3 separate regions of the Homo sapiens genome follow, and all the other regions are linked to region 3. The links come from fine-mapping of genetic effects on gene expression. A gene starts in region 3. Each other region holds a variant in brackets. All regions are shown on one strand. Distances are between the middles of the regions. Region 1 overlaps GPR107 (G protein-coupled receptor 107). Region 2 overlaps GPR107 (G protein-coupled receptor 107). Region 3 holds the start of GPR107 (G protein-coupled receptor 107).

Region 1 (10,180 bases), 79 kb before region 3:
CTCATCTGTCCACTGCTGCTCTGGAAGGGTCAGGACCAGCACTGCAGACACTCGGCCATGCTGTGAGTGAGCCCAGACATACGCGTGGAATCTGAACACCCAACGCTGGCGTTCCCGTGCCAGTCTGAGGGCTGCGGCTCCAGCGCTTGTCCACACACACGCCTGCCTCTCTCTAGTTCCTCCACTGCCTGGCTTCCTCGCTTGCAAAACCCAGCATGTGAAATGAGGACACCTCCACGGAGACCCTTCCGAGCAGGGAGGTTTCATCACACCTTTCGTTCTTGCCAAGGAGTCTATCGCCTCATCCACAACATCTGCTTGCGGGAGAAACAGCAAATGTGTCCCTCTGAGGGAAGGACTGAGGAGGGCTTTGGTAGTCACAGATTGAGACACATTTCTGCGAAAACTGGTATTATGTTTCTGCACAGGAAAACAAAGTGTTAAAAATATTCCCATCCTCCCTCCAACTCCCTTCTGTCACACAGTCCCAAGTGAACTTGAAAAAGGTCCAGAAGTGAACACTTAGGGTGCATTTACCTTTCTCCTGAAGATGGGAAGACACACGGATGCTTGCCTAAAATATCTGCCGAGAGGTGAGCAGCTGTGGCCTGGGAAGGCGCTTGCTCTTCCTCCACATCAGCCAGAAGGCAGATCACACCTTCAGAGCACCCTACAGAACCCAGATGGCGAATCAAAGTGCAGAAAAAGAACACCCGCTTCCTCATTAGTCATTTAGGAAGATAAGATAGCATGGGACAGGGAGAACAACCATGTTCTGAATGGAGACTTTTTCAGGTTCCCAAACTTGGGACAGTGAGTGTGACCCCACATCCTGTGGTTTCTGCCTGACCCTTCTAAGCCAGAGGTGAGAAAACAACTCCCAGAGACCACGACTCTCACCCTCGGAGGTACCTGTTCCCCTGCAGGTGTGGCTCTCTGACAACCCCTAGGCAGGGGTGGGCTCCAGCTTTTGGAAGCAACCCTACCTAGCTGGCCCCCCAAGCATTAAGAAGCTTCCCTGATGGGGCCATGTTTTGGTCTCCTTTTAAGCCCTCAGTCACAATGTACCTTCTGAGCTTGTCCTACTATTCAGATGATTTTCTCTCTGAGTTGCAATACTGCTCAATTTAGGTGGCTACCTGTGTTCATTCAAGCTCTGGAAGTGTGGAAGGGAACTTAATCATTGAGTTTCTGTGAAGTATTTTGCCATCCTAAAATCCCTGAGAGTGAAACTGTTGAATCATGCTCACTTTCTTCACATACATACTCTTGGACTATGGGGACCAAGTCTGTTGAATTCATCTATTTAGAAATCCTACTAGCCTACAGGAAAAGCTTTTTAATGGGGATGATTTGCTTGGACTTAAGTATTTGCTTAAATACTACCTATTCTGCCCCCAGCTGCTCCTTGAGGAAAACTTTCCATTTCCCCCAAAATTCTGATCAAACACAACAAAGCCACAAGCATGAAGGGAAGCCAGACAGTGCTGCTCTGGGCTGTCAGGGAGTGGATGTCCAGGCAACGCCACAGGATAATGCTTTTTGAACTTAAAAATACATTTCTTTCCATCCATCAGGCAACATCTCAGTCAGAAAACCACCTCCCACCACCTGTGCTGTGCCACAGGGCATGATCCTGACAGCGACATCACAGCCTTCTTTTCCTGTTGGAAAGAAGACCACTGGGCCTCAGGAGCTGCTGTCCTGGTCACTCTCAGCATCTGGAATAAGGGTCTGGGGCAAAGCCGAGGGCAGGAATCCTGGGGCAGGTGCTACATCCTAAACTGGGTTTTGACTTTGCTTTCCAAAGTCACCTGTTTTCGTTCATTTTTGTCTCCCAAACAGGCAATGGCACTCTCCCCGCCCTTCTTCTTAAGTCCCAGGGTCCTCAGTAGACATTTCCTAAAGCATCAGACAGACACCTCGCACCCTCCTTCCCCCTCCACCAGCCGTCCTTGCTACACTTCCCCACACATGGGGTCACAACTGCATACACCTTAGAGCTCCGAAATGAAGAAGAAAAAAAGAAACCTAAATTAAAAATGAATTCTTCCTTTTCTCTTCCTCTCCTCCTCCCTGTGCCCGCCCTCCCATTCCCGCCTGAAAGAGGATCCAGCTGCCTCTAAACAGCCACAGATCGTTTCCATAAAAGAGAGTACAAAATCAGGTTTCCGCGGCACTGTGCTCCAGCCATGTGCCCTGGTGTCACTGTCGGTGGTGCCAATAGTTCACTGTAGGAGCTGCTCCTGCTGTCCAATAGGACTATGAATAAGTTAACAGTTTCCTTGGACAGTGCCATCCTCAGGGTCGGCTCTGTCACACGGCGCCTTCCCACTCGCCCTGGGGCTCCACGGAGCCGTTGGTCACCTTCTTGACTTTCTTCATACTTTCCATCACCCCAGATGTTGTCACACTGAACAAGGAAAGAAAAAACAATTAGGAACATCTCACAGTCTCTTAGTAAAAGGCCATCTCTGCCACAGCACGGTGATTAGGACTGATGATGGGTGTTGGTTTTTGAAACAGACAAAATCTAAGTGTGATTCCTGGTTCGTTCCTTACTAGCTGTGTAACCTTGGCCAAGTCACTTGAACTCTCTGTGCTTAAGTAATTCTCACTTTCCAGAACTGTCATGAGGAAAAATGAGATTCTCCAGAGTGCCTAATCAATAAACACCAGCTATCGTTATCACAATCATCATGAATCTTTTTGTCACAGCTTGCGGAATTTTTGTGGCGCACAGATATGTGATAGTTACGCTTATGAGACTGAAATCTGACTCTTAATGGACATTCAGAAAAGAAAGCTAATTAGCCAACCAGACATTTTTAATAAGCAGCCACAATGGATCATTTCTGAGCCAGGGGACAGAACCACAGGTTTAGAGGAACCTTCCAGGATCAAAGATTCTTTGGCCACTATAGACAGAGAACTGGCTGCTTTCTGCTAGCTGGGGCTGGGCCATGTGGCTGTGCCTCAGCGCATGGCCTCTGCCTCCACTCTGTGAGCTCCCGGGGCTCTGTCTGTTGGTGCCTGGCTCTGAGGAGGCCCCATGGAGCCATTCGTTGAAATCAAGGATTAAAAATGGAAGATCGCTGGTCTCGCAGGGCATGAGGAGCTGAGCAAGGCAGCCCTTTCCATTAGAAGGAATCACATGCACGGGCCCCACCTTCTCAAGAGGATAATCTCTTGCCTCACAGAAGGTGAGCTGGTCTATGAGGGAACTGGGTGGCTCTGTGAGTAGCAGAACTAGGCAGAGATACTGGGTGTCAAAAGCCGCTTGGCCCAGCATCTTCCCTGCAAGCGAGGAAACAATGAGGATTTATGCTCCCCCATGGTGGACCAAAAGAAATTTCCTCATCAGTAAAATAAATTCAATCAATCAACTCAACAGGCTCTTTCCAAGGACCCAACCCATCCCTCTGCCAACTACCTAACCCCTTCCCCTACAAATGGCAACACAGTGGCCGTATATGTGACCCATCTAGAGTGCATGCAGCTGGACCTCATGGTAAGTAAATGTTTGTATGGGGTAAGGGAAGAAAACTTCCCCCTCTTCTTCATCTCTTCATTCTTGCCATTATGGTGCTACCATGCCCAGGCTCAAAGAATCCCCCAAGCCGGAACCTTTCTCAAACGAGTCCTTTAGACTCACAGGTTATTTGTACTTATGGCAAAGTTGGGACAAGGTATGTGGCCAGATCCCATAGATGCTATAAGTGACTCTAAAAGCATCCCCTAAGACGAAAATGCCTCAGCTGAAGCC[G/A]CCCAGCGTCACTTCTGGCCAGCTGGCTTGTGTCTCAGGCCTGGCCTCTTTAGGAAGACACTTGCCCCAGGAGGGATCCATGTGCACAGGGCTGCTCCTGAAGGGACCTTCTCTAGACGGGGATGCAGGAGGTAGGGCCTTTGCATGAGCCAGAGAAGCCCCTGCCCCGAGCCACGTAGCAGCCCCCGTGCCTCTCCACAGTGACTGAGACCACAAAGAAATGCGACCCCACGTCTTCCAGAAACACTCCAGTAATCACACAGCTGTCCTATGGTTACTGCATCTTGTTAAAAAAGGACAAAGAGTTCAATGCACGTTGATTCTAAGAGGCAAAGCGCATTCACTGTGACCCGGATATGGGCCTGACGGCAGACTTGGGAAAAACATTTTCTCCCTTTCTTTCTCTAAGAAAATACTCCTTTCCACATGGTGGGCCAAGTGAGAAAACAACTTTTATTCTTCAAGACAGGCCTCATGCTAGGTCATCAAGGAAAAAGAAGTGGTCTTATTGCTCTTCGGAGCCCACAGCCCAGGAGAAGAGATGGTCTTCCACAGCAACCCTGCAAAGCCACTTCCAACAGAGACAGGAGTGCTGGGAACCGGGTTCGGTGATGGCTCGGGCTGAGAAGAATCCCTCTGCCGGGGAATCGGGGAAGCCAGGAAGCCCGTCATGAGATGCAGAGGATCTGGCCCACAAGATGGGTGGGAGGTCAGGGGAGTTTCCAAAAAGAAGAAATATAACAGGCAAAAAGCATGAAGGAAAAACCCAGGACATTTCCCAGGGCAGTGAGGGAGTGCTAAGTACTTGCAGTGTGTGGATTGTATATGTGTATATATATATAAATATATAAAAATATATATATATTTTTTTTTTATTTGATTTTTTGAGATGAAGTCTCGCTCTGTCACCCAGGCTGGAGTGCAGTGGCGCCATCTCGACTCACTGCAACCTCCGTCTCCTGGGTTCAAGTGATTCTCGTGCCTCAACCTCCCAAGTACCTGGATTATAGGTACATGTCCCCATGCCCAGCTAACTTTTGTATTTTTGGTAGAGATGTGGTTTCACCATGTTGGCGAGACTGGTCTCAAACTCCTGACCTCAGGTGATCCACCTGCCTCGGCCTCCCAAAGTGCTGGGATTACAGGCGTGAGCCACTGCACCTGGCCTACGGCAAATATATTTTAATACATCCAGCCAGTCTGGGAAGGAGAGTGGCAGGGAGAGAACCAGGGTGGACACAGGACGGCAGGGTTGTCGAGGGCCCAGTCTGCCTGGTCACCCAAGGATGGCCTTGATTCCTACTCTGGCAGTTCTCAGCCCTGCCTCCTGCTCAGGCTGCCCTGGGGAGTGAGAAAAGCACAGATCCTGAGCCCAAGGGGTGAGAATCAGAGTCTCCAGGGGTGCGGCCAGGAAACTGGCACTGCAAAAACACTCTACAGGTGATTCTAGAGCCCGGGAGAATGGACAGGAAGGGCTGGGCACACCTGTATTCCCAGGGCAGCTCACGCCTGCATTCCCAGCACTTTGGGCGGCTGAGGCGGGAGGACTGCTTAAGCCCAGCAATTTGAGACCAGCCTGGGCAACATGGCAAAACCCTATCTCTACAAAAAAATACAAAAACATTAGCTGGGCATGGTGGCATTCATCTGTGGTCCCAGCTATTAAGGAGGCTGAGGTGAAAGGATTGCCTGAGCCCGGGGAGCTCAAGCCTGCAGTGAGCTGTGATAGTGCCACTGCACTCCAGCCTGGGTGACAGAGTGAGACCCTGTCTGCAGGGGAATAGAAGGATGGACAGGAAGGGGAGAGGATCGGGAGTGAAGAGGTCAGCCACCACAAAGCCCAGGCACGAGAGCAAGAGGCGGGGTGGGGCTGGGGGTGAGAGGCACAAAGTAAGGCCTACAGGACGCTCTGCACGGGCTGAGGAAGAGGGACGTGGTTCAGCCATGGCTGCAGGAGACTGGGTGGATGTCCGTGTCACCAAGGCCTATAGGGAACAATGGGGAGGGGCGAGCTTGGTGTGATGCAGGAAGACTGTGGCTTCAAGGCTGAGGTGACGCGGAGCAGGAGGACAGGGGGACCTGGCATTCAGGAGGGGCCGGGGGCAGTGAGGGGGTAGCAGGGGCAACCCTGGGCTTGGGTGAGTCCTGGGAGTGCGAAGAGGGAGAACGGGAGTAAGGGTGTGTGGTAGCGCAGGAGGTTGTCACAGGCAGGGCGGGTGACAGGGAGCTTCAGTGTGTGGCCAGGACTGGGAGTGGCAGAAGTGAACTCAAGGAGAGGAAGAAACCTGATGGCAGATGCCCAGGGTGGGGTAGGCGCTACATCCTGTTCCCCCAGCAAACCTCTGGGAAGCTGAAGGGACACCTGGGGCCCCCACGATGTGAGGAAACCTGGCTAGCCCCCTGCAGACAGGGCGCCCGCAACGGTCCTGGAAGCTCAGGCTCTGCAGCAGTGAGAAGAGAGACCTGGGTCAGATGAACACCCAAAAGCCTCCCTGGCAGGAACATACGGCGGTGGGGCTTCAGCAGCTTCGCAGCCACCTCACTAGGTGTCCTAGTTTTGGTGCAAACACTTAAGGGACCGAACAGCTGAAGGGCCAACATCCGACCGCCGCAGATAAGCGTTCTTTCCTTGACATCTAAACAGTAACCCCCTTTCCTTGCAAAGCCCCAAGTCTCTGTGTTTGCAACCAAAAGTGCCAAATGGGACACAGGTTCCTTCTGCCACACAAGACTGCAATCAAATGTGGCTTGGGCCTAAGTGGTCCACGGATTCATGCGTTTTTTTTTTTTTTTTCTTTTTTGAGACGGAGTTTCACTCTCATCGCCCAGGCTCGAGTGCAGTGGCGTGATCTCAGCACACTGCAACCTCCGCCTTCCGATTTCAAGAGATTCTCCTGCTTCAGCCTCCCGAGTAGCTGGGATTACAGGTGCCTGCCACCACGCCCAGCTAATTTTTGTATTTTTAGTAGAGATGGGGTTTCACCATGTTGGCCAGGCTGGTCTCGAACTCCTGACCTCGTGATCTGCCTGCCTCGGCCTCCTAAAGTGCTGGGATTATAGGCATGAGCCACTGCACCCAGCCGATATATCCATTTCTATAACTAAAAAGTGTTTTCTGGTCTGGAAGTGTGGGGAGACCTGGTGAAGAGACAAGTCTATTAGTCCCCAATCCCCATTTCCACACACGTTCCTCGCCCACATGAAATAATGCAGGGAGTGGTGAAAGGTGAACAGCAACCATGAATGAGGACAGCGTTCTGGAATGGGAACCCCAGGGAGAAAACCTCCTGGCCCAGGAACCCACACCAAACATTTCCTTCCACTCTCACTCCTCAAGATGACAGAAGTAATTCAGATCATTGAGGATACCCACAGCCTAGGAGGCAGCTACCAAGTCTGATAATTGAAATCGCATCCGATACTTTTTAACTTGCTGATTATTGACCGGTAACTTCTGTTGCCAAAACTGGTAGGCCTAAAGAGAGATGGTCAAAGAAACAGAAGGGGAAAGAGAGAGAAAGTCAGTGTTACTTTGGACTGTGCCCTCATACCCAGGCCCAGAGAGAGAAGCTGTGTCAGGCCTGGTGGGGTAATGGCTGCACAGAGGGCAGCTGCGTGGGCCGCGTTGTCAAAGAAGCACCAAAACAAAATTTTAAAAAAATTGTTGCCACGAAACAAAAATACCTTCATAATGCATCCAGGCTCCAAGATGTAACGGCTGAGGGAAAGGATGTGGGAAGCGGGAACCTCCCATTACGACTGTGGAGTACAATGCAGTAAAGGAGACGATGCTGCGACCCGGCCGCTCGGCTTCTAGCTGCCTACCCAAAGAACCCCGTGTTATGCGGACGGACCAAGCCAAAGGCTCCCAGCAGGGGAATGATAAACACACCGCGTCTTAGGTTATTTCCTGATGCTGCTGGTTGCCAGCCTGACATGTGTGCCTCTTCAACCAACAGACACTTGCTCAGATCCTGCCACTTCTGGGAAAGGCACAGCTGATGGGCCTCCTGCACTCCTCTCCACTGTTTAGAAGGAGGTGTTTCTTCCTCTGCATGGGGAGATGCTGTTTGGCGCCCGCTGGCAGGACCTGCCTTCCTTTACTGTTGCCGTGGAGCTGAGCAGAGAGAGCTGTCCCATGCTGCCTGACCCGCTGACAGCCAAGCAGAGCTTAGCATGGGCCGAGTCTCAGCCTCTGAATTGGGAAGAATTCAAAGGCTGCCAGGGCTGGGGGCAGAACACTTGATACCAGTGAACCAAGAAGGGAAAACTCTGCCTTAGGCTAATCATCAAACACAGCATTGACCTGGCTTATCAAATTTCAGTTAACAAGCAAATATGCTTAATCACTACTCATTTTTCTAGACAATGATGGCCCTTTCCCAGAAAATAGGACCCTAGAGTCATTCACTGTGTGACTCAGAAAAGCCCCTATTAGTGCTCAGATATAGGTCAAAGTCATTGTGCTGTGAAAAGCCACGCAGTTATCTGACGATAGAGGATGTCTGAGGATCATTAGCAGACTTAGAGATGACTCAGAAGATTCCATTTTCAGACGTAAGCGCCTGATGGCGGGCCTGACAGAAAGTCGGCCCCCTGTTCTCCCTCGTGAACTGGCCACGTATATTCCTAAGTTCTTGCCACTGAGTTCTTGAAAGCAGGCTCCAATGATGCTTAGTGGAACGGCAAGTTCCATCTTCCCTGACAAGACCCAGCTAGGTTTGGCAGATACTGTACTTCAAACCAGATCAGACAGCCTGGGGCTCCAGTGTCCGCTTCCTTCTGCTAAAAATAGAGGAACCACCCCTGCAGCCACGAAATGCTGAGAGCAGCCGACCCGATTCACACTGTGCTGCTTTGTGTTAGGCAAAGGGGTCAGGGCTAAGGAAGAGGGAAGAAAGATTTCTTACACGGACTCCATTTCCAAGTCTTCTTCTTCCTGAGAAAGTTGTAGGTAGGGGTTATCTGAAGCCGGACGGAATTTATACCCCGTTAGAACAAAGAAGACCAGTGTGGCCGTTTCATCCAGGAGCTGCAAGTTTAAAAACCACCCCAAAATAAAGAGATTAGCAACACTGTTCTTCAGAAAGCAGTGGAATTCAACAAACTGACATATTTCCCCACAACCCACCACTCGATGGTTCTTTACTCAGATGCCACTTCCTGCTACAGGGCATTTTCCTTAGACTTGCCGAGGCCTAAACGAGGAGTGTCCTGCCCAGGGCTGACATTTCCGAGGCTGTGCTCTGCTGTGCTTTCACCAGTCTTCATGGGTAGCTTTTAAGAGCTCACCACATACCCACTTCCTCCCACAGTGCCTACAGCACCCAGTGAGTTATTCAAGAAAAAAGTCATTTGGTGGCTTCCTCTAGTAGTTAAGCTAGTTCTAGTTTGTCGCAAAGATACTTATTATCGAAATAATAAAATGGGCAAAGAAGAAGGGCAGCCTGAATTCTAACTACTCAGCCCTGTAACTAAAGGAAAGGACCACATCTCATCTAAGTTCTAATGATTCAGGGCAAATCTTTCTCTACCTGAAGCTTTTCTCTTGACTTTTAAGACTGAAAACTAAAATCAAGAATGCAATTATTTTCAGATTCCTCATAGAATCCAGCAGCATTTCTGGACAAACAGATCATCTCAATTATAGGCCAGAAGAGATGGAAGGAGGCCAAGTGTGGTGGCTCACACCTGTAATCCCAGAACACTGGGAGGCCAAGGTGGGCGGATCACTTGAGATCAGGTGTTTGAGACCAGCCTGGCCAACACTGCAAAGCCCCATCTCTACTAAAAAAACAAAAATTAACTGGGCATGGTGGTGCATCCCTATAATCCCAGCTACTCAGGAGGCTGAGGCAGGAGAATCGCTTGAACCCGGGAGGTGGAGGTTGCAGTGAGCTGAGATTGCGCCACTGCACTCCAGCCTGGGTGACAGAGTGAGACCCTGTCTCAAAAACTAAAAAAAAAATTTTTAGTTAAAAAAAAGAAGAGATGGAAGGTCTTAGTGGTCATTCCCAGATAAATTAGTAACAACTGTTAAGTTACACTTCAAGACTTTATCCTCAGGCATAAATTCTCTGGCATTCTGCCCTGTGAGCAGCGTACCTGGTAGAGCCACTTCCACTGGAATGGAACAGCGAGTTTGAGGAGAAATGCAATGATCCTAGTGAAGTATATGTAACACACAATCTGCATGAGGAGGAAAGAAACAGGAAATCAGATCAACATTAAAATTAGGACACCACTTTAACAATTTGCTTTCACAAATGAACTAGGAAACAGAAAACAGAATCACTCAAAGAAAAGTATGTGACACTTACAGTGTGAATTAATACGTGCAGCGGAGAGACATGGCTACTCTGCTAGTTACACTTGAATTTCTTCTCTCTCTCCAGGTGACCAAGATATTGCTAA
Region 2 (10,269 bases), 50 kb before region 3:
AAGAACCTGCTTAAAGCCACTGAAAAGAACCTATCACAAGAGGACACTCCAGAGGGAAAAGAAGGGAACCTGGTATCTTTGAGGGGAAAAAAATGAGAAAACGGGAGAAGGGCTATTCCCAGGACTAGAAAGAAAACAAAAGCTGGTGCAGGTCGCAGAAGCTGAGTGGGCCTTGGGAGGCTGGCCTCTGACCACTGACCAAGGCTCCAAGCCTGGGTATGACTTGCACACAGGCTGCCTAGGAGCAAGAGTTACGTGAACCTGGACAGCAGGAATGCCATACTATCTGTTCCAGGCCCAAACTGGCGAGATCCTCCAGAATACTGTGCTCTAAATAACAACCTAGGGCTGACCCTGGCGTGAAGCCTCAAAGTCATGTTTAATTTAACTTAAAGAAATAATGCGTTATTAGTTATATACCAGGTTTGTGAAAGAAGATTTACAGCTACTATGCATTTTCCGAATTTTCTAAAATGAATCTACATTGGCTTTATAATCAGAAATAGAGTCAGCAACAAAACTTTATTAACAAAAACCTGTTTTATTTATTATTCATAACCTGCATTAAAGAATGTTAATATCCACACTGGGTGTACGATACCATGGATCCAGAGACCGTTCTGAGCTTTGAGAGAAGAGAGCACTGCTCCTTAAACCCTTGTGGTCTGAAATTCTCACTTGTGCTATGGCAGCCTGTGGTCATGAACATTATTCAAATAAGCCCAGAACCACACAAAACATTTTCTTTGCAGCTTTTCTTCTGATTTAGGAGGCATGACTGGAAAGTCAAGGAGATGCAAAAGGGCTATAAAGGGCACAACCATTTCAATATCAGGTAGTTTTCAAGGTTCCTTCTGTCATCAGAGTCTTGCTTTAAATGAATACTGACACATCTATTTTGAAAGTGTGTTAAATCAGCAGGCAGGGCTGCTTTACACATAGCCATCTCCAATCCATTATCCCTCCTGTTCTCACAGCGAAGTGTTATCTGGCCCTTCTAAGACAAGATTTTCTCTTGCTGACTCAGTTTTGAGAAGGTGAAAATCACAACCACGAGTGGAAATGAAATGAATCATCTTAATAAGCAGCAGTCACCCCCAACCTCCTCCTTATACAACTGACTCAACACCTCCTTCTCCAAACTACCCCTGGCTGCTCTCACGAAGTGGGCCCCAGGCCTCCCCTAGCTCTCCTCCCAGGAAGACAGCATCTTGACACCATAGGCTGCCTCCACTCCTCCGCAGTGCCGCAGCACGTGGGTTCAGAGCAAGCTGAGCAACACAAAATGAGCACGAGAGAACTTGCCTTTTCCATCTGTTGCTGATGCTTCTTGTAAATGTCTGATTGACCTAAAAATAAACATTTAGAGAACAAAAAGTTAGCTGACAAATCTGCACTCCTCTCTATTTCCAGCTCTAGTAACTTGAGGCTGAATTTCTCAATTACATGCTGAAAGGTTGGACTACATCACTTTAGAGCACTCTCCCTAAAACGGGTAGAGGGGGGGAAATGGTTGATATCAACACGTCTGAGGTAAAGTCGCCCTCTGCTGGCCAAATCTGTGGCAATAAGTCTAGCAGGGACCAGAGCGTGAGGAGAAAACAAAACTCCATCATTTAATGCTCCTGTTAATCTCTCACTCCCACAACCACCCCCTACCCAACACTCCCATGACAATGGAGCATCACTGGGCTCACCTGCCACCAGGAGAGAATAAACCCTAGAAGAAAGTCACCAGCTGACTTCTAGAGTCTAGGTCTAAGAGCTGTGAACATACAGCACCATGCAAACTTATCGAGTGGAGATTTTTAACACTGCTGAAAAATGCCAGCCTCCAGGGACACTGTCTGGGGCTGTGATGTGCTGGTACCTAATGACCATCATTACATTTCAGGCAGAGGAACATTAACATTATTACAGGAGCCGCAGGTGAGAGGTGGAGGCACCATGAAAAGCCACCAACAGAGAGACTTCCCTGAGGGCTGAACAGGGCACAGGCAGACAGGCTGTGTGAGGGAAGGCGGCTGTGGTCTGACACTGTCACTCACTCTTGTCAGCAAATCAATTACTCTTCCTAAATCCTCCGTAATTTGCCCACCTGTGAGAGGGGCTATCTGCTTGAGAACTGAATGGAACACCACACGAAAGCTAACCAGTACACTGCTGGCCCTGAAGCAATGCTGGCTGAATCGGGATATTTACAAGTATTATTATTATTATTATTATTTATTTATTTATTTATTTATTTTGAGACAGAGTCTTGTTCTGTCGCCAGGCTGGAGTGCAGTGGCATGATCTTGGCTCACTGCAACCTCCGCCTCCTGGGTTCAAGCAATTCTCCTGCCTCAGCCTCCCGAGTAGCTGGGACTACAGGCACATGCTACCACGCCCAGCTAATTTTTATATTTTTAGTTAAGATGGGGTTTTGCCATGTTGGCCAGGATGGTCTCGATCTCTTGACCTCGTGATCCGCCCACCTCAGCCTCCCAAAGTGCTGGGATTACAGGCGTGAACCACCGCGCCCAGCCTAAAAATATTATTAATCTTGAATCACCTCTCCAGTACTTACTGACTTTTTTCATTTTACAGTAATTTTTAGGATATTTACCTTAAGGAATTTTGCCATTTGGAATCTGCTCATTAGTGTTGTAATTAACAAGGGGCAGGAAATGGCTGCTTACACCTCGACAGCTTGTTGGGGTTCCTTATATTTGACTATTCTGATAGTGGCATGTGTAAAAGTAGGGTGTGAACCTCTGTTCCCTAATGAGGTGCTCTTTTCGATCTGGAAACAATGCTGGACATCCTATGTTAGATACCCGAGTGACTAATTCCTGTGCAGGACGGCAGGAGGCTGCAGTGAGGAGGAAGAGTCATTCATATTCCACTGGGTGCGGTGGCTCATGCCTATAATCCCAGCACTTTGGGAGGCTGAGGTGGGAAGATCACTTGAACCCAGGAGTTTGAGACCAGCCTGGGCAACATGGCAAAACCCTGTCTACAAAAAATTGGCTGGGTATGGTAGTGTGTGCCTGTGGTCCCAGCTACCCAGGAGGCTGAGGTGGGAGCATCATTCATACTCTCTTCTATGCTGGTAGCTGTCTGCTGAACTGATACGAGATCATGTGTGATGTATGATGGAATGAGGGTGAAGAGTGAATCTAACTGGCTGGAATGAGAAGTACTCTCCATTTGCACCATGTTATAAATAATGAGAGTAACTGACAAACCCCAGGATCCTCAAAAATATTAATTTACTGGATGGGGCATTGCAATAAGAAGCACCTCAGCCAGCTGCGGTGACTCATGCCTATAATCCCAGCACTTTGGGAGGACAAGGCAAGTGGATCACCGGAGGTCAGGAGTTTGAGACCAGCCTGGCCAAAATGGCGAAACCCTGTCTCTACTAAAAATACAAAAAAAATTAGCCAGGCATGGTGACACGCACCTGTAATCCCAGCTACTCAGGAGGCTGAGGCAGGAGAATCACTTGAACCCAGGAGGCAGAGGTTGCAGTGGGCCGAGATTGAGCCATTGCACTCCACCCTGGGCAACAAGAGCGAAACTCCATCTCGGGTTAAAAAAAAAAAAAAGAAGCACTTGTAATGGAAGGCCGGGGTGAATCTATTTTCTTTAAAATTTATTTCAAAAGAATTGCATTCCAATAGCCATGGAATTATATCACTAAGGGTAAAGTGTTTTATTGCTGCTAGCCTTCTGAATTTCTACCACTCTGCATGTGATTTAATAAGGATATTTTCTCATCAACCACTGACTTGACACTAACACTTCTTTACACAGACCCAATGCACAATCTGTGCATCTAAACACTGCCATTTCCAGGAATGGAGCAATCCATTCTGAAAACATCAAAAATGTTTGTGTGCTGAGAACTATCACTAGTTTTATGTTAATGAACTTCCTCATTTTCCACCTAAGTTGGCAAGAACTGGCTGTTTATGGGATTTCTCCAACTCCCTACCACCACCACAAATTCAGGCTGCTACTTTAAGTTACTACCAAGTTCTCATTTCCCAATTCCTCTCTATTGTCTTAGAACTCTGTTAAATGCCAGCTCATGGTGACGGATTAGCTCTGCCAGAATACCCCGAGTAACTGGAAAAAGACACAGGGTTCTGCCCCTGGAGGCTGATTCAGGTCAGTCTGGGACTCAGAAAGCTGTACTTTTAAACACACGTCCCATGTGACTGAGATCAGTTTGGGAATGGCCAGTTCAGCTATTGGGCTTGACAGCCAAGCTGTCATGTGGCCTC[C/T]CTCCCTGTGAGCTACTCACCACACCACTGGGAAGAGGATGGCACCACAACACAACAGGTCGACCAGAAATAGAGAGTCCTTCCACAAGCCATATTCAGTCGTGCCCTCCTCGGTGGACTCTATGATGATGTAGGCTACATTTGCCAGGACCTACAGACATGAGAAGTTGCTGAGGCCCCAAAGCATGGGTGGACTGTTATGATGCTAGCAGCCCCAATGTGGGGTGTACACCTTGGCCTCCAGACCCACGATCTGCGACCACAGCATTCTTTCCAGTCCCACGTGCTCTTCCAGAACTCTGCCACTCCGCTATCAAGGAGAGTCTCTATGCCACCCCCCTGAATCTGCACAGGCCGTAATTGCTCTAATACAGTAAGATGGAAGTACTGCTGTGTGATTTCCAAGGTAGATAAAGCTTCCACCCAGCTCTCTTGGGACCTTTGGAGCCCTAAGCCTTCTTGTAAGAAGTCTGGCTACCCTGAAACTACCCTGCTGTACAGACCATGCAGAGATGGAAAGGCCCCCCCAGGAGCCCCGGCTGTCCCAGTCCCCACCTGAGCAAGCTTCTCAGCCCAGAAGACAGATGCGAGTGGAGACTTCAAGATGCTCCCAGCCATGGTGTGACTATGACCACAAGACCCAAGTCAGACCTACCCAGCTAGCCACTCTTGAATTCCTAACCCACAGAAACTGAGAGAGAGAATGACGGGTTATTGTCGTTTTAAGTCGCTGAGTTTTGGGGTGATTTGTTATGCAGCAGTAGATAACAGGGACACTTTGCTTTTCAGGTACCCCAAACCCAGTGGAGTCACTCAGGTGCTGGACTGCTGGATAGGTGGCACTTAACACCCTATTTAGCCACAATGCCCATACTTTTCAGGCCATGGTGCTCAGTGACAATAACTCATCTAAGTGCCAGACAATGGAACTGTGTTTTCAGAGACCAGAGGGTGAGCATGGCTGATTCCAGCCCTACAGCCTCATATACTCAGGCCCACTATTAAGCTCTGTACTCAGGCCCGTTATTAGGCTCTTAGCATAAGTCTTTATAAAAAGTCTTTCCACTGGCTAAACTGAGATGCCACAGAGCATAAGGGAAATTTACCACTTATAATACATCCTTTTGAAGATTACCACTGGGAATGGATGCAGAGGTTATCATTCCACCTATATACCCCATGAGAAGTCCCTGGTCCCAAATCTCTGCCTGACTTGCTGTAAAAGGTAATCCTCCACACTTTGCATGTAAAATCTGTAGTGCTATTATTTAGGAAGTCTCTAAGTTTAATTTCTCTTTCTATACAGGACTTAGAATCAAATTATCCGAAATTTCATTTAAAACTAATGCAAAAATTATCTGAAATTTCAGCCTCTCCAATGACCCCCAGCTTCTGGGTCCTTCCCTGTCCCACACTGCTCGTGAAGCCCTGTCTATCCAAAACACTAGCATCTGTGGCTCCATCTAAAAAGACAAAGTAGGGCTGGGTGCGGTGGCTCATACCCATAATCCCAGAAATTTGGGGAGCCAAGGCAGAAGGATTGCTTGAGCCCAGGAGTTTGACACCAGCCTGGGCAAAATAGTGAGACACGGCCTCTAATTAAAAAAAAAAAATTAAAAATTAGTCAGGTGTGATGGTGTACGTCTGTGGTCTCAGCTACTCGGGAGACTGAGGCAGGAGGATCGCCTGAGCCCAGGAGTTTAGGGCTGCAGTGAGCCATGATCACCACTGTACTCCAGCCCGGGCGACAGAGTGAGACCCTGTCTAAAAGTAAGAGGACAAAGTAGAAAACAAAGGCTTTCACATCTTAAATTCAAAATTCCATTTTGTCCTTAATTCACACACTGCATGAGAGACAGAATGTTCCCAGTGTTGAACAACGTGCCAAGAGTGTTCCTGAAACACCATTTTGCAGGGACATCATCTACTCCTTACTTAGAAACTTTCTGTCACTGCCCATGGCCAAAAGGAAGCAGTTTTAACTTTTCAGGCTGACATTTAAGGCCCTCCCAGACTAGTTCTATTGTCTAAATACTCATGACTTTCTTAATTTGTTAAATGTCCTTATCTTCTCAGACTGACATTCCATGGAACTCTGTGTGTCTGTCTTTCAGGGAAGCCCAGGACGGGCTTCCTGGAAGGCTATGCCCCACGACAGCCTGGTTCAGGCTGGTGGGGGGAGACTCTAGAGGGATGAGGGACTCTACTAAAGGGAAGAGGCACACGCAGCCGGGTGACAACCCAGTCTCCGTCATTCACAACTCCGAGACCTCGGCAGGCTGTAGGACTCAGTCTGGCTGAAGAAGTGACCACGGTGGCTCGACAGCCGAAAGACCGGCACAGTCCCTCAGCATGTTTTGCTTAGCAGACAGCAGGGTCATGTGTATTTACTGCCTCTGTCACATTCCTTTCCTTCAACACCCAGGCCAGCCCTATCTCTGTCACAAAGCCCTCCTTGATCCTTCCAACTTGAGTGCTTATTCTCTCCTTGGAAACACAGAGCAACTGGCCTGTCCCATTCATTTGATGTCAACACATGTTCCTCATTATTGAACGTAAGGGTGGATGAGGTCTGTTAGAACTCCGAGAGGAGCTCTGCTGCAAACTCTGCCAGAGTTGGGACGGCTGATCTGGGTGCCTCAGGAGTTGTCCCCTTCCACCCCCAACCTTCCACATTTACTTTGTGCTCCAAAATGTGAGAAAAGTTCACAGGGACAACTCTGTCAAACAGACGCTGTCTGGTCAAGCAGAGCAGGGTAGCTGTGCATCCCTGCTAAAACCTCTCTGTTCATTGTAAGTTCTTTACATCCAAGTTCTGCTTCCAGTAAGACAAGGCTCCTCCCGCAAAAGACTCACAGCCTTGTAAGGCTGGCCTTGGCCCTCGGCCCCAAACATGGTAAGGATTTAGGAAATGTTTGCCCCTCACGTCTACTACCATATTCTACCTGTGGAAACTCACTGGTGTAGTTCACGGTTTTAAAATACTTTGTTAATAAAATCACTACATCTCTGAGCTTCCTTGCCAAGGGCACCATTTAGTTATGAAGCAAATGATGCAGAAGAGAAAACAGTACTGTGTGTTACTGTGTGTCTCCCTGTCACTGTCAGCAGCTCTCTACTCAAAATCTAGGCCCCCAAAGGCCAGTGGCTGACTGATGCCCAAGCATCTCCCAGTGCAATGACCTGAAGTCTGTTCAGAATTCAGAAAGAGAATCTCAGTCTTCAACCTCCACTAGCAGAAGCTGGGGTTTCAGGGTGAGGTGACTCCCTCTTCCCATACAGGCTTGGAGCTGAGCCCTGCTAAGCGCCAAGAAAGGAAGTGACAAATGGGATGAGGGTTCTTTTACCTGGAGTGGAATGACAATCATGAAGATCTTTTTGTCTTTATCAGAAAGGATGTGCTTAATGAAAGCCCAGCCAGTGCCAATGAGTGCAATGGTGATGAAGAGTAGCGCCCCTTTCAAACTGGAAGAGAAAACAAGGAACAGACACCAGCAGGTCTCTTTAGACTCTCACTGCCAGTTAGATTGCATAGCTCATTCTATGAGTTCACAAGCTTCTTACAAAAGACGGGCAGCCAAATTTAGGAAATCCATCATACATGAGCACCACTTCCTTCAGGGCACACAGTTAGCTCTGCACCCCACAGCCTGGACAGCCAATGGCCGCAGAGAGGCAGGAGTATGCCACTAAGCCCGACTTCCCAAGTCTGGACAGCCACCCATGAGCTACACTCCTCTGGTATGGCAGGGGCCCAGACAGGCTGCCACAGGAGGGCAGGGCTGGTTAACTTGGGGCAGGTTGTTGCCCACCCCCCTTGTCTTGTATGTCATTTCATGGTGTATTTCACATGGACCTGCATACTTACAGGTGAGTTATGTAGTACACAACAGCCCAGCCTTCGATAGGGAAGCCCTGGGAGGAGATGTAGTGGTAGTCAATCTGAAATCAAACAACTGCATTTCAGAATCACTCATTATCTACATGGCTCCACAAAGAATCTTTTAACTTGGACCCATTTGGGAAATTATCCAAATCATTGTCATTTGGTGACGCTGCCACTGGATATATTATTGCCTTTTCCAAGGAGGCCACTTTCAAGTACAGCAAAGAGTACATGTCTAGAGACTGTCATCCTTGCAAGTGTGCTCCACGGGCACTTGGAGGCCCACAGACAGGAGAAGTTGTGATCTTACCCCCTTGGGCAAGTTCATTTTAATTTGCATAAGTTCCAAATATACAAAGCTGAGGCTCAATTCTCATGCCTCCAGCTTTATAGCATCAATTTTCTCTCAGATAAATATGCTAATACTGAATTGAACTTCAAATCACAGAGGAACATGAGGGAATATCTGGAAACATAAAAAAGTCGTGGAGGCCGGGCGTGGTGGCTCATGCCTGTAATCCCAGCACTTTGGGAGGCTGAGGCGGGCGGATCACGAGGTCAGGAGATCGAGACCATCCTGGCTAACACGGTGAAACCCCGTCTCTACTAAAAATACAAAAAAATTAGCTGGGCGTGGTGGCGGGCGCCTGTAGTCCCAGCTACTCGGGAGACTCAGGCAGGAGAATGGCGTGAACCTGAGGGGAGGAGCTTGCAGTAAACAGAGATCACGCCACTGCACTCCAGCCTGGGCAACAGAGCGAGGCCCCGTCTCAAAAAAAAAAAAAAAAAAAAAAAAAAAAAAAAAAAAAAAAAAAAGTCGTGGAAACAAGTCAGCAGGTGGCACTCTCATCTCTAGAAATGGTAAAAAAACAAAACAAACCAAAAACAAAGAAATAAAAACAATAATAAGTGTTCTAGAAAAACTGTAGGTCTGTAAGCAGTATTAGAAGATGTCTGAAGTCTAATATGAGGGGAGGTGGTAATCATTTACCCGCATGGCCAGGCCCTCCCAGACAAGAGGAGGCTTTATGAGAAATGTATTCTTTGTCTTTGTTTCCCACCAATCTATCCCCTTTCTTCAAATTTCTTTTGCCTGCTCACACAGGCATTATACGTAATTTCATGAATGATCCTCAAAATGCTAATACATACTGCATGGAACACCAAGGAAAGAGACTTGGTGAAAGGAAGGGCCGCCATCAGCCAGTGGATTTTAAATACATCATTCCTATAAAAACAGAGAGAAAACAATTAAAGGAAGATTCCATTCTCCCAAAGGACAGCCAAAGCTCCAGACATTAGCTATATTTATAAGGAGACAGGAAATATAATCTGTGCAAACCACAAACATGAAACTTTTTTTTTTTTTTGAGACAGGGTCTTATTCTGTCGCCCAGGCTAGAGGACAGTGGTGTCATCACGGCTCACTGCAGCCTTGAACTCAGGCTCAAGCGATCAAGCAGCTCTCAGGAAGCTGAGGTGGGAGGATGGCTTTAGGTGTATGCCACCATGCCCAACTAATTTGTTTTGTATTTTTTATACAGAAAGGGTTTTGCTAAGTTTCCCAGGCTGGTCTTGAACCCCTGGCCAAGCAATCCACCCACTTCGGCCTCTCAAAGTGTTGATATTACAGGCATGAGCCACTGTACCCAGCTAAAACTTTTTTTTTTTGAGACAAGAGTATCGTTCTGTCACCCAGGCTGGAGTGCAGTGGCACAAACTTGGCTCCCCGCTAACTCCACCTCCCGGGATCAAGTGATGCCCCCCCACCGCCTCAACCTCCTGAGTAGCCGGGATTACAGGCGTGCGCCAAGATGTCTGGCTAATTTTTGTATTTTTAGTAGAGACAGGGTTTCACCACATTGGCCAGGCTGATCTTGAACTTGTAACTTCAAGTAATCCACCCGCCTCTGCCTCCCAAAGTGCTGGGATTACAGGGGTGAGCCGCCACACCCAGCCACTTTTTTTATAAAGTACGTTTTGCTGGTAAAAAAGGCCTTGAATGGAGTCCTAAAGTAATCTCTAATACACAATTTAATGTTGTGAATGAACCTGAGAGTTATGCACCAAAGCTAGACATGATGGATTCCAACTCTTGAGTAAATGGAA
Region 3 (10,269 bases):
AAAAAAAAAAGAAAAAAAGCCTACTCATCCTGTGATTCCACTTACATTAAACATCCAGAAAGGGTAGGTTTATAGAGACAGAAAGTAGATTAGTGGCTGCCTGGGACTAGTGGTGGGAATGGGAATTGATTCTAAACCAACACAAGGGATCTTATGGGGTGACAGAAACGTTCTGTGGCTAGATTGTGGTCATAGCTGTACAACTCGGTAAACTTACTAACAATCATTGCATTATACAGTTAAAATGGGTGATCTTATGGTATGTAAATTATACCTCAATAAAGTTGTTCTTAAAAGGCAAGGAGTATTTCCTGCTGACAGGTCTTTAAAAAAATAAACAAAAATAATAAATAGCCAGGAGCGGTGGCTCACGCCTGTAATCCCAGCACTTTGGGAGGCCGAGGCAGGTGGATCACCTGAGGTTAGGAGTTCAAGACTAGCCTGATCAATATGGCAAAACCCCATCTCTACTAAAAATACAAAAATTAGCCAGGCGTGGTGGCGCATGCCTATAATCCCAGCTACTTGGGAGGTTGAGGCAGGAGATCGCTTGAACCGGGAGGCGGAGGTTGCTGTAAGCTGAGATCGCGCCATTGCTTTCCAGCCTGGGTGCCAGAGCAAAACTCTGTCTCAAAAAAAAAAAATAATAATAATAAATAAATAAAAAGGCAAGGAATATAGGGAAAAGTCAAAAGAGATGGACTGTGAGAAGACTGGGAAAGCCAGAAGAATGGTGGAAAATGTAGCATGGAGTAAGACAATAAAAATATAAGAGGACTCATTTCTAATTTTAAAAATAATAAAAAATAAGAACCAGAAATTGATGTATGTGGGATGAGGCAGAATCAGCCATGTGTTGATGGTTATTGAGGGTGACAGGCACATGGGAGTTCATTATGCTATTCTATCTGCTTTAGTATATTGGAAATTCTCCACAATAAAAAGGTTGTTTTGCTTTGTCTTTTTTTTTTTTTTTTTTAAGAAATAGGGTCTCACTCTGTCCCCCAGGCTGGAGCCATTATAGCTCACTACAGCTTCTGACTCCTAGGCTCAAGGGATCCTGCCACCTCAGCCTCCCTGGTAGCTGGGACTATAGGTATGCACCACCACATCTGGCTAATTTTTGTTGCTGTTGTTGAGATGGGGTCTTGCTCTGTCGCCCAGGCTAGAGTGTAGTGTCGCCATCATAGCTCACCGCAGCCTCCAACTCTTGACCTCAAACGAGCTTCCCTAAGTGCTGAGATTACAGGTGTGAGCTACCAGGCGCAGCCAGGTTTTAAGAGATCAACGCATACTCCTGGTACTCAGTGACCTCTTCATGTTATCCTTGCCATTATGGGTCTCTAATCTGATCAAGTACCCTATTTCACTCAGTCTCAAGCAAAACAGACAATCTAAAGTTGCTGCTCTGACAGGCTCTCTTCAAATGATTTCCATTTCCTTGGGCAAGAACTCAGAACAAGCTTGTCCAGGATGCATGCGGCCCAGGATGGCTTTGAATGCGGCCCAACACAAATTTGTGAACTTTCTTTTTTTTTTTTTTTTTTTTTTTTTTTGAGAAGGAGTCTCGCTCTGTCACCCAGGCTGGAATGCAATGGCGTGATCTTGGCTCACTGCAAGCTCCGACTCCCGGGTTCATGCCATTCTCCTGCCTCAGCCTCCCGAGTAGCTGAGACCACCGGCACCTGCCACCACGCCTGGCTAATTTTTTGTATTTTTAGTAGAGACGGGGTTTCACCTTGTTAGCCAGGATGGTCTCAATCTCCTGACCCTGTGATCCGCCCATCTCGGCCTCCCAAAGTGCTGGGATTACAGGCGTGAGCCACTGCGCCCAGCCAAATTTGTGAACTTTCTTAAAACATTATGAGATTTTTTTGCAATTTTTTAAAGCTTATCAGCTATGGTTACTGTTAGTCTATTTTAGGTGTGACCCAAAACAACTTTTCATCTTCCAATGTGGCCCTGGGAAGCCAAAAGATTGGACACCCCTGACTTCGGATGTTTATTTTATTTTATTTATTTATTTATTTTGAGACGGAGTCTTGCTCTGTCGCCCAGGCTGGAGTACAGGGGCTCAATCTTGGCTCACTGCAACTTCCTACTCCTGGGTCCAAGCGATTCTCCTGCCTCAGCCCCGAGTAGCTGGGATTACAGGTACCTGCCACCACGCCTGGCTAATTTTTGTATTTTTAGTAGAGATGTGATTTCACAATGTTGGCCAGGCTGGTCTCAAACTCCTGACCTCAAGTGATCCACCCACCTCAGCCTCTGAAAGTGCTGGGATTACAGGCGTGAGCCACCGTGCCCGGCCAAGTTTTGTCTACATTTCTACATGCACTTTTCTGGAGAGAGGTTCTATAGCTCTCAACAGATTCTCAAAGAGTCAAAATTCACTTGCCCCACCCCCACCCCTGTGATTGAACCATTTTAATCAGGATAATTTTTACCTACAAACAACAAAAGTTGTTACCAAAAAGTAAGGTTGTATGGATCCAGTCAGGCTTGCATTTATTTATTTATTTATTTATTTATTTGAGACAGAGTATAGTTCTTTCGCCCCGACTGGAGTGCAGTGGCACAATGATCTCTGCTCACTGCAATCTCAGCCTCCCGGGTTCAAGCAATTATCCTGTCTCAGCCTCCCAAGTAGCTGGGACTACAGGCATGTGCCACCATGCCCGTCTAATATTTGTATTTTTAGTAGAGAGGGGTTTTGCCATGTTGGCCAGGCTGGTCTCGAACTCCTGACCTCAGGTGATCCGCCCACCTCGGCCTCCCAAAGTGCTAGGATTATAGGTGTGAGCCACCGTGCCCAGTCAAGCCAGGCTTTTAATTTCATTCTGTATTCTTTAAATTCTACATTAACAAAATACAATGCTTCATAGTTTGCTAAAACAATGTGTTTTTACAAGACAAACTTTCTACAGTTCCACTTCTTTTTTTTTTTTTTTTTGAGACGGAGTCTCGCGCTGTTGCCCAGGCTGGAGTGCAGTGGCGGGATCTTGGCTCACTGCAAGCTCCGCCTCCCGGGTTCACGCCATTCTCCTGCCTCAGTCTCCCGAGTAGCTGGGACTACAAGCGCCTCCCAGGTTCACGCCATTCTCCTGCCTTAGCCTCCCGAGTAGCTGGGACTGCAGGCGCCTGCCACCACGCCTGGCTAATTTTTTTTTTATTTTTAGTAGAGATAGGGTTTCACCGTGCTAGCCAGGATGGTCTCGATCTCCTCACCTCGTGATCTGCCTGCCTCGGCCTCCCAAAGTGCTAGGATTACAGGCGTGAGCCACCGCGCCCCGCCTACAGTTCCACTTCTTAGAAGACTGTATGGTATGAAAATAATGTACAAGAGTTTGGGTCATAACAATTTACTTTTCTATGTCTCTAATTTTGTTTATATGTTTTGAGAAAGGGTCTTGCTCTGTTCCTCAGGCTGGAATGCAATGAGTAATCACGGCTCACTGCAGTCTCAACCTCCTAGGCTCAAGTGATCCTCCAGCCTCAGCCTCCCCAGAAGCTGCAGGCGTTTGCCACCACACCTGGTTAATTTTTAATTTTTTGTAGAGACAGGTTTGGGGAGGGGGTCCTTAGCACGTTGACTAGGCTGGTCTCGAACTCCTGGGCTCAAACAATCCTCCTGCATAGGCCTCCCAGTGTTGGGATTACAGGCATGAGCCACAGCACCTGGACAATTTCCCAGATATAGTAAACTGCTGAACCACCTTAGGGTGCGTTTCAGCCTTAGAGGTCTTTTCTCTGCTAGTTACAAAGCAAGATCCAGAGTATCATTCTAGGTTTATCAAAAATCTCTCTTCCCTAGACAATGGCTGGATAGAGGAAGAAAAAGCAGGCCCTTTGATTAGAGACACACCTTAATGCTGGCTTTACATTCTCAGTCACGTGTTTTAAGCAAGATTTGAAATTCCTTCTCTAGAGTCTCGCTCCAGAGAGCGCCCTAAACCGAAATGGGAAACTGAGGCTAAGGTTCCAAGTACCTTCAAACCGCCGGTACAGTACAAGGGCACAGAAGAGCGGAGACCGCGGACAAGGAAAGCCAGCATAAAAGCTGGAGGGGAGAAAGAAGAAAGGCGATCGGGCTGCCCTGAGTGAGGAATTCAGGGAAGCCAGCAGGGATTTAAGAGCAGCCTCCCGAGTCCGTGGGGGCAACGCCACAGTTCAGCCCCTTCCCCTCCCTCAGCTCGAGTCTTCCCGCCCCGTGCCGGTCAGCCCGAAGACCCCAGCGCCGCCCAGACCCGCCTTCCCCACAGACCCCGCCACCTGTCAGTGAAAGGCCGCAGCCAGGGGCAAAGAGGTGGTCCAGTGGCTCAGAGGTCCCCAATGGGCCAAAGTTGCCCTAAAACCCGGGGAGTGGCCTCGGCCTCCGCCCCCCGGCCCGGCCTTGCCAAGCTTTACCTTGAGTGCCAGGTGATGGACGCGGCCCAGGCCAGGCTCGGCCAGCAACTGCAGCAAACCCAGCATTGGGAGCAGCCGGAGGCCCGCGGCCAGCCTAGGACCGCGGGAGGCGGGGGAGCCGACGGGCGCCAGAGCGGCCATGTTTGTTCCAGCATCACCAGCCGCTTCCTCTCCCGCCCACGTCCGGGGTGAAAGGGCGCAGCCGCCGGAAGGGCCCGGGGAGCGGGGCTCGGCGGCTAGCTCCGCTGACCCTGTGGTCGTTTTCCTGGAGATTGCGACCTAGGAAGTCGTCGAGGAGCCTGTGCTGCCCACCTCGGGGCCCTTCGATCGGCCGCTCCTGTGCAGACTTTCAGTTAGAGATGAAGCCAACCTATTGGCGGTTGCCATAACAACGGTGGCCGAACCAGACCAGCCCGGGCCGCACCTCCGCCTCGCTGAGCTTTGGAAGCGACCTTGGGCTCCGGGGACCCCTGATCTCAGGGTCGGGGGATAAGCTGTGTCAGCCGCACGGTGTCGGGCCACTGATTGAACTGATTTCACTGAGCGTTGACTCGGAGGAAAATATCTAAAAATTCCCGGCTCGCCGTAGGGGTCCTGTGGTTTTCTAGGCGCTTCACACTCAAATACAAGCGAAATGGTTGCAATAATACGATTGATTGAGCCCTTATGAGGCAATTTGTTAGGCCTTTTGTTGTATTTAATTTTTGGAACAATTTGATGAGCTAGGAGGTACGTATTATCATTATTCCTACTTTACAGGTAAGCAAACTGAGGCTCTGAGAAATAAGTCATTTGCTCCAGGTTGAGCTGGGAATCACACGGAAGCTCTTAACTCCTGTGTTCTGTTGCCTCATGCTATTTCATCCAACCCCAAGTCTGGGTCTTAACATTTTTCTCTTAATTCTGTATGGAAACTTTCTTTGCTTCTTTCAGAAATTATAGGAACTTCTTTTTTTTGAGACGGAGTCTAGCTCTTGTCACCCAGGCTGGAGTGCAATGGCACGATCTCAGCTCACTGCAACCTCCGCCTTCTGGGTTCAAGCGATTCTCCTGCCTCAGCCTCTGGAGTAACTAGAATTACAGGCCTGCGCCACCACGCCCGGCTAATTTTTGTATTTTTAGTAGACACGGGGTTTCTCCCATGTTGGCCAGGCTGGTCTCGAACTCCTGACCTCAAGTTATCCTCCCGCCTCGGCCTCCCAAAGTGCTGGGATTACAGGCGTGAGTCACTGCGCCCAACCTGCTTTGGAGTACTTTTTATCTTTTAAAGTTAAGTGGCATCTTTGAAAATCTCTGGTTTTAAATTTGAATATAATACTGTACTAAAAACGAAATGAGGCCTGGCAGGGTGGTGATTCGCGCCTGAATCCCAGCACTTTGGAACGCCGAGGCGGGCGGATCACTTGAAAGTCAGTTGTTCGGGACCAGCCTGGGCAACATGGCAAAACCTCGTCTCTACTAAAAATACAAAAATTAGCGGGGCATCACGGCCGCGCGCCTGTAGTCCCAGCTACTGGGGAGGCTGAGGCAGGAGAAGCACTTGAACCTGGGAGGCAGAGGTTTCAGTAAGCCAAGATCATGCCACTGCACTCCAGCCTGGGTGACAGAGTGAGACTCTGTCTCAATAAAAAAAAAATCAGGTAAGAATCTTAATCCCATTTTATAATACAATAGTGATGAAACATTAAAATAGTTTTAAATAGGAGACTTTTGTCTTAGTTTCTGGACAACAGTTTTATAAGGGCTTAAAACTGGGTTCATAGCATTCCTTGCTTCTCTATACTTGGGTATTATCATGTGACCTACATAGGGTCATACCAGTGCTGTCTGTCCAGGGGTTTAAGAGGATATCTTCTTCTTTCACATATTTGAAAGCTGTATTGTGCCAGTCATTATTTTGGAATTGAGAGGAATAAGAATGAGGGAAAACTGACTACAAAGACATTGTTGAGCATTTTCTCTACAGTTACTTCTTAAATTCTAGAAAACTGCTGCCTTGACAATTACATTTAGCCATGTGATTTCATAGTTTCAAGAAAAGATTATTTGCATAATCATGATGCTGTAACTGGAAACAAACAGGCTGAGTAACAGAACAAGTTATGCCTGCTTCTCCTGGCAACATTTTCAAAGGGACATTACACTTTAAGGTATTGACTGAAAAAGCCTGCAGGGGCTGGAAAGACTGATCTCCTAAGCTTGGCTTTTAGCCTTACTCTCTTAGTCAAGTACATTTTATTTTTCTATTTTCTCTCCTTTTTTTTTTGAGACAGAGACACTGTTGCCCAGGACTGAGTGCAGTGGTGTGACATCTGTTCACTGTAGTCTCCACCTCCCAGGTTCAAGGGATTCTCATGCCTCAGCCTCCCTAGCTGGGACCACAGGTGTGCGCCAGTATGCTCAGCTAATTTTTGTATTTTTGCTAGAGATGGGGTTTCACCATGTTGGCCAGGCTGGTCTTGAACTCCTGGCCTCAAGTGATCTGCTCACCTCGGCTTACCAAATTGCTGGATTACAGGCGTAAGCCACCCTGCCTGGACTATTTTCTCTAACTTTTCAGGATCAGCTTAAGGTTGCTACTAGAATGTGTAGTGTTGAATCTAGTGCTATTATTATTAAATAATTATTTGATATCGGTTTGGACATTTTCAGAACTCTTTTAAGTAATTAATGTGTTAATAGTCTCCAGTTTAAGAAAGTATAATTGCCATTTGTTTTTCTTATCAAAAGACTTGATAGGCCTGGCTGGTGTCTCATGCCTGTAATCCCAGCACTTTGGGAGGCCAAGGCTGGTGGATAACTTGAGCCCAGGAGTTTGCCACCAGCCTGGGCAACATGGTGAAACACCTTCTCTACAAAAAATACAAAAATTAGGCCAGGGGCGGTGGCTCAGGCCTGTAATCTCAGCACTTTGGGAGGCTGAGGTCAGTGGATCACCTGAGGCCAGGAGTCTGAGACCAGCCTAGCTAACATGGCAAAACCCCATCTCTACTAAAAATACAAAAATTAGCCAGGCATGGTGGCGCATGCCTGTAATCCCAGCTACTCAGGAGGCTGAGACAGGAGAATCGCTTGAACTTGGGAAGCGGAGGTTACAGTGAGCCCAGATTGTACCATTGCACTCCAGCCTGTGTGACAGAGCGAGATTCTGTCTCAAAAAAAAAAAAAATTAGCGAGCATGATTGCACCAATTCACTCCAGCCTGTGCGACAGAGCAAGACTCTGTCTCAAAAACAAAAACAAAAAAACAAAAAAAAAACACAAAAATTAGCGGGCATGGTGACACGCACCTGTAGTCCCAGCTACTCAGGAGGCAGAGAGGTGGTAGGATTGCTTGAGCCCAGGAGTCAACACTGGAGTAAGCCATGACACTTTTATCCAGCTTGGGTGACAGAGCAAGACCCTGTCAAATAAAAAAAAAAAAAGAGTTGATTGATATTGCAAACCAAAAGCCTCTGTTAAGACAGTATAGGAAACTAGTGGTCAAATTGGGGCCTAGCAATACATTCAGAAGTCAAATGCTACTTTTCATTCTTTGGCTTGAAACACCATTTCTTCCAGGATTGCAGCTAAAGTTTTCATGCATTTCTTGGGGTGTCGGGAATGCCTCCAAGTGCATCTTTTTGTAGAAAGTGATCATGGAAAAGCCAGGCTCTGACACACTTTGAGTCCTGTGGATTGGAGAGAAACTTCAAAATTACTCCTCAACCTGACGACCCTAGTGTATAACTTGCTCAGCCACAGGACAGGCAGTCTTTCTTGATTTTATGTACATCTTTACAGGGGAATTGGATTATTCGTTGTAAAAATTCATTGCAGTTTTAGCATTTCACTCACCATGGAGTTCCTGGTTTTATCCTACTCCACTTTTTCCAGTTGATTGCTTTCTTGAGTCCCTAGTAAGTAGTTCGAATGCAAAAGAAGTTGGAAATTTTAAGCTAAAAACAAGTAATTTTGAAGAAGAAAAAATCCTGAGAATTTCATTAGAAGTAGTTCTTCACCAGTAGACAACCAATCAACTGTAAGTTCAGGCAGGCGGTCCTGCTGCATCAGAAATGTTTAAAGGCCTGTATTCCCAGCTACTGGGGAAGATGGTTTGAATCCAGGAATTCAAGGCTGCAGTGAGCTATGATCATGCCACTGCACTCCAGTCTGGGCAACAGAGCAAGACCTCTCTAAAAACAAAAACAAAACACAAAACACACACAAAAAAAGAAAATGCTGAAAGGATTGCTTTATTTTCTACAATAAGTAAAAATCCTCCAGAAAACAGGAGGAAAGGAAAGGGAACTGATACTTGTGTGTATATTATGTGCTAAACATTTTATACGTATTCTTTCTTTTAATTTTTATTTTTATTTTTATTTTTTTTTGAGACAGAGTCTTACTTTGTTTCCCGGGCTGGAGTGCGGTGGTGCAATCACGGCTCACTGCAGCTTCCAACTCCCAGGCTCAAGCGATCCTACTGCCTCAAGCCCCCAAGTAGCTAAGCACAACCGTGCCGGGCTAATTTTTGTATTTTTTTGTGGAGACGGTTTCGCCATGTTGCCCAGGCTGGTCTAAATCTCCTGGGCTCAAACAGTCCTCCAACCTTCACCTCCCAAAGTGCTGGGATTATAGGCATAAGCCACCTTTCTTTCAACCTTTACAATAACCTTTGAAGTAGCATTATTTCTATTTTATTTTTTGATTTTTGAGACAGGGTCTCGCTCTCAGGAGTGCAGTGGCATGATCAAGGCTCACTGCAGCCTCAATTTACCAGGCTCAAGCAATCGTCCCACCTCAGCCTCCCGGGTAGCTGGGATTACAGTTGTGCACCACTGTGCTTGGCAAATTTTTTTATTTTTTGTGGACACCAGGTTTTTCCATGTTGCTCAAACTGGTCTTGAATGCCTGGTCTCAAGCGATCTGCCTGGCTTGGCCTCCCAAAGTGTTGGGATTACAGGCATGAGCCACTGTGCATGGCCATATTTACATTTTAAAGAAGAGGAAACTGGCCGGGAGTGGTGGCTCATGCCTGTAATCCCAGCACTTTGGGAGGCCGAGGCGGGCGGATCACGAGGTCAGGAGATGAGACCATCCTGGCTAACACGGTGAAACCCCGTCTCTACTAAAAATACAAAATACTAGCCAGGCATGGTGGCGGGCGCCTGTAGTCCCAGCTACTCGGGAGGCTGAGGCAGGAGAATGGCTTGAACCCAGGAGGCGGAGCTTGCAGTGAGCGGAGATGGCGCCACTGCACTCCAGCCTGGGCGACAGAGCCAGACTCTTATCTCAAAAAAAAAAGAGGAAACTGGGCCGGGCGCGGTGGCTCACGCCTGTAATCCCAGCACTTTGGGAGGACGAGGCGGGTGGATCACGAGGTCAGGAGATCGAGACCATCCTGGCTAACATGGTGAAACCCCGTCTCTACTAAATGTACAAAAAATTAGCCGGGCGTGATGGCGGGCGCCTGTAGTCCCAGCTACTTGGGAGGCTGAGGCAGGAGAATGATGTGAACCCTGGAGACGGAGCTTGCAGTGAGCTGAGATCGCGCCACTGCACTGCGACAGAGCGAGACTCCGTCTCAAAAAAAAAAAAAAGGAAACTGAGGCTTAGAGAAGGAAAGTAATTCAGCCAAAGCTCTCTATAGCTGTCTGGACAGAACTATACAAATCTGGCTAACACCAAAGACTGTACTCAACCCCAGTTCCTTCATTTCAGACTAATGACAACCTATGAGATCCCTGTCTTTTTTTTTTTTTTTTTTTTTTTTTTTTGAGATGGAGTCTTGCTCTGTCGCCAGGCTGGAGTGAAGTGGCGCGATCGCGGCTCACTACAACCTCTGCCTCCTGGGTTCAAGCGATTCTCCTGCCTCAGCCT

Evidence for each region.
Region 1: its variant is fine-mapped to the expression of GPR107 in whole blood (TOPMed, PIP above 0.99).
Region 2: its variant is fine-mapped to the expression of GPR107 in whole blood (TOPMed, PIP 0.99).

The regions. Positions count from the first base shown.
Region 1 is chr9:130,127,258-130,137,437 of GRCh38, reverse strand. GPR107 (G protein-coupled receptor 107) reads right to left here. Exons shown (of 18, transcript NM_020960.5): 16 at 9,872-9,955; 17 at 8,677-8,798; 18 at 1-2,413. The coding sequence ends at 2,317. Among named protein-coding and RNA genes, the nearest start is that of GPRACR, 12 kb to the left of the region's middle. RefSeq lists an enhancer at 8,261-8,480. The variant G/A (reference allele first, on the strand shown) is at 3,767.
Region 2 is chr9:130,098,576-130,108,844 of GRCh38, reverse strand. It overlaps GPR107 (G protein-coupled receptor 107), which reads right to left. Exons shown (of 18, transcript NM_020960.5): 10 at 9,313-9,388; 11 at 8,143-8,216; 12 at 7,622-7,739; 13 at 4,295-4,425; 14 at 1,306-1,349. Among named protein-coding and RNA genes, the nearest start is that of GPRACR, 41 kb to the left of the region's middle. The variant C/T (reference allele first, on the strand shown) is at 4,275.
Region 3 is chr9:130,048,212-130,058,480 of GRCh38, reverse strand. GPR107 (G protein-coupled receptor 107) reads right to left here and starts at 4,575. Exons shown (of 18, transcript NM_020960.5): 1 at 4,408-4,575. The coding sequence starts at 4,548. It also overlaps a transcript of FNBP1 not described here. RefSeq lists a silencer at 4,278-4,587 and an enhancer at 9,127-9,627.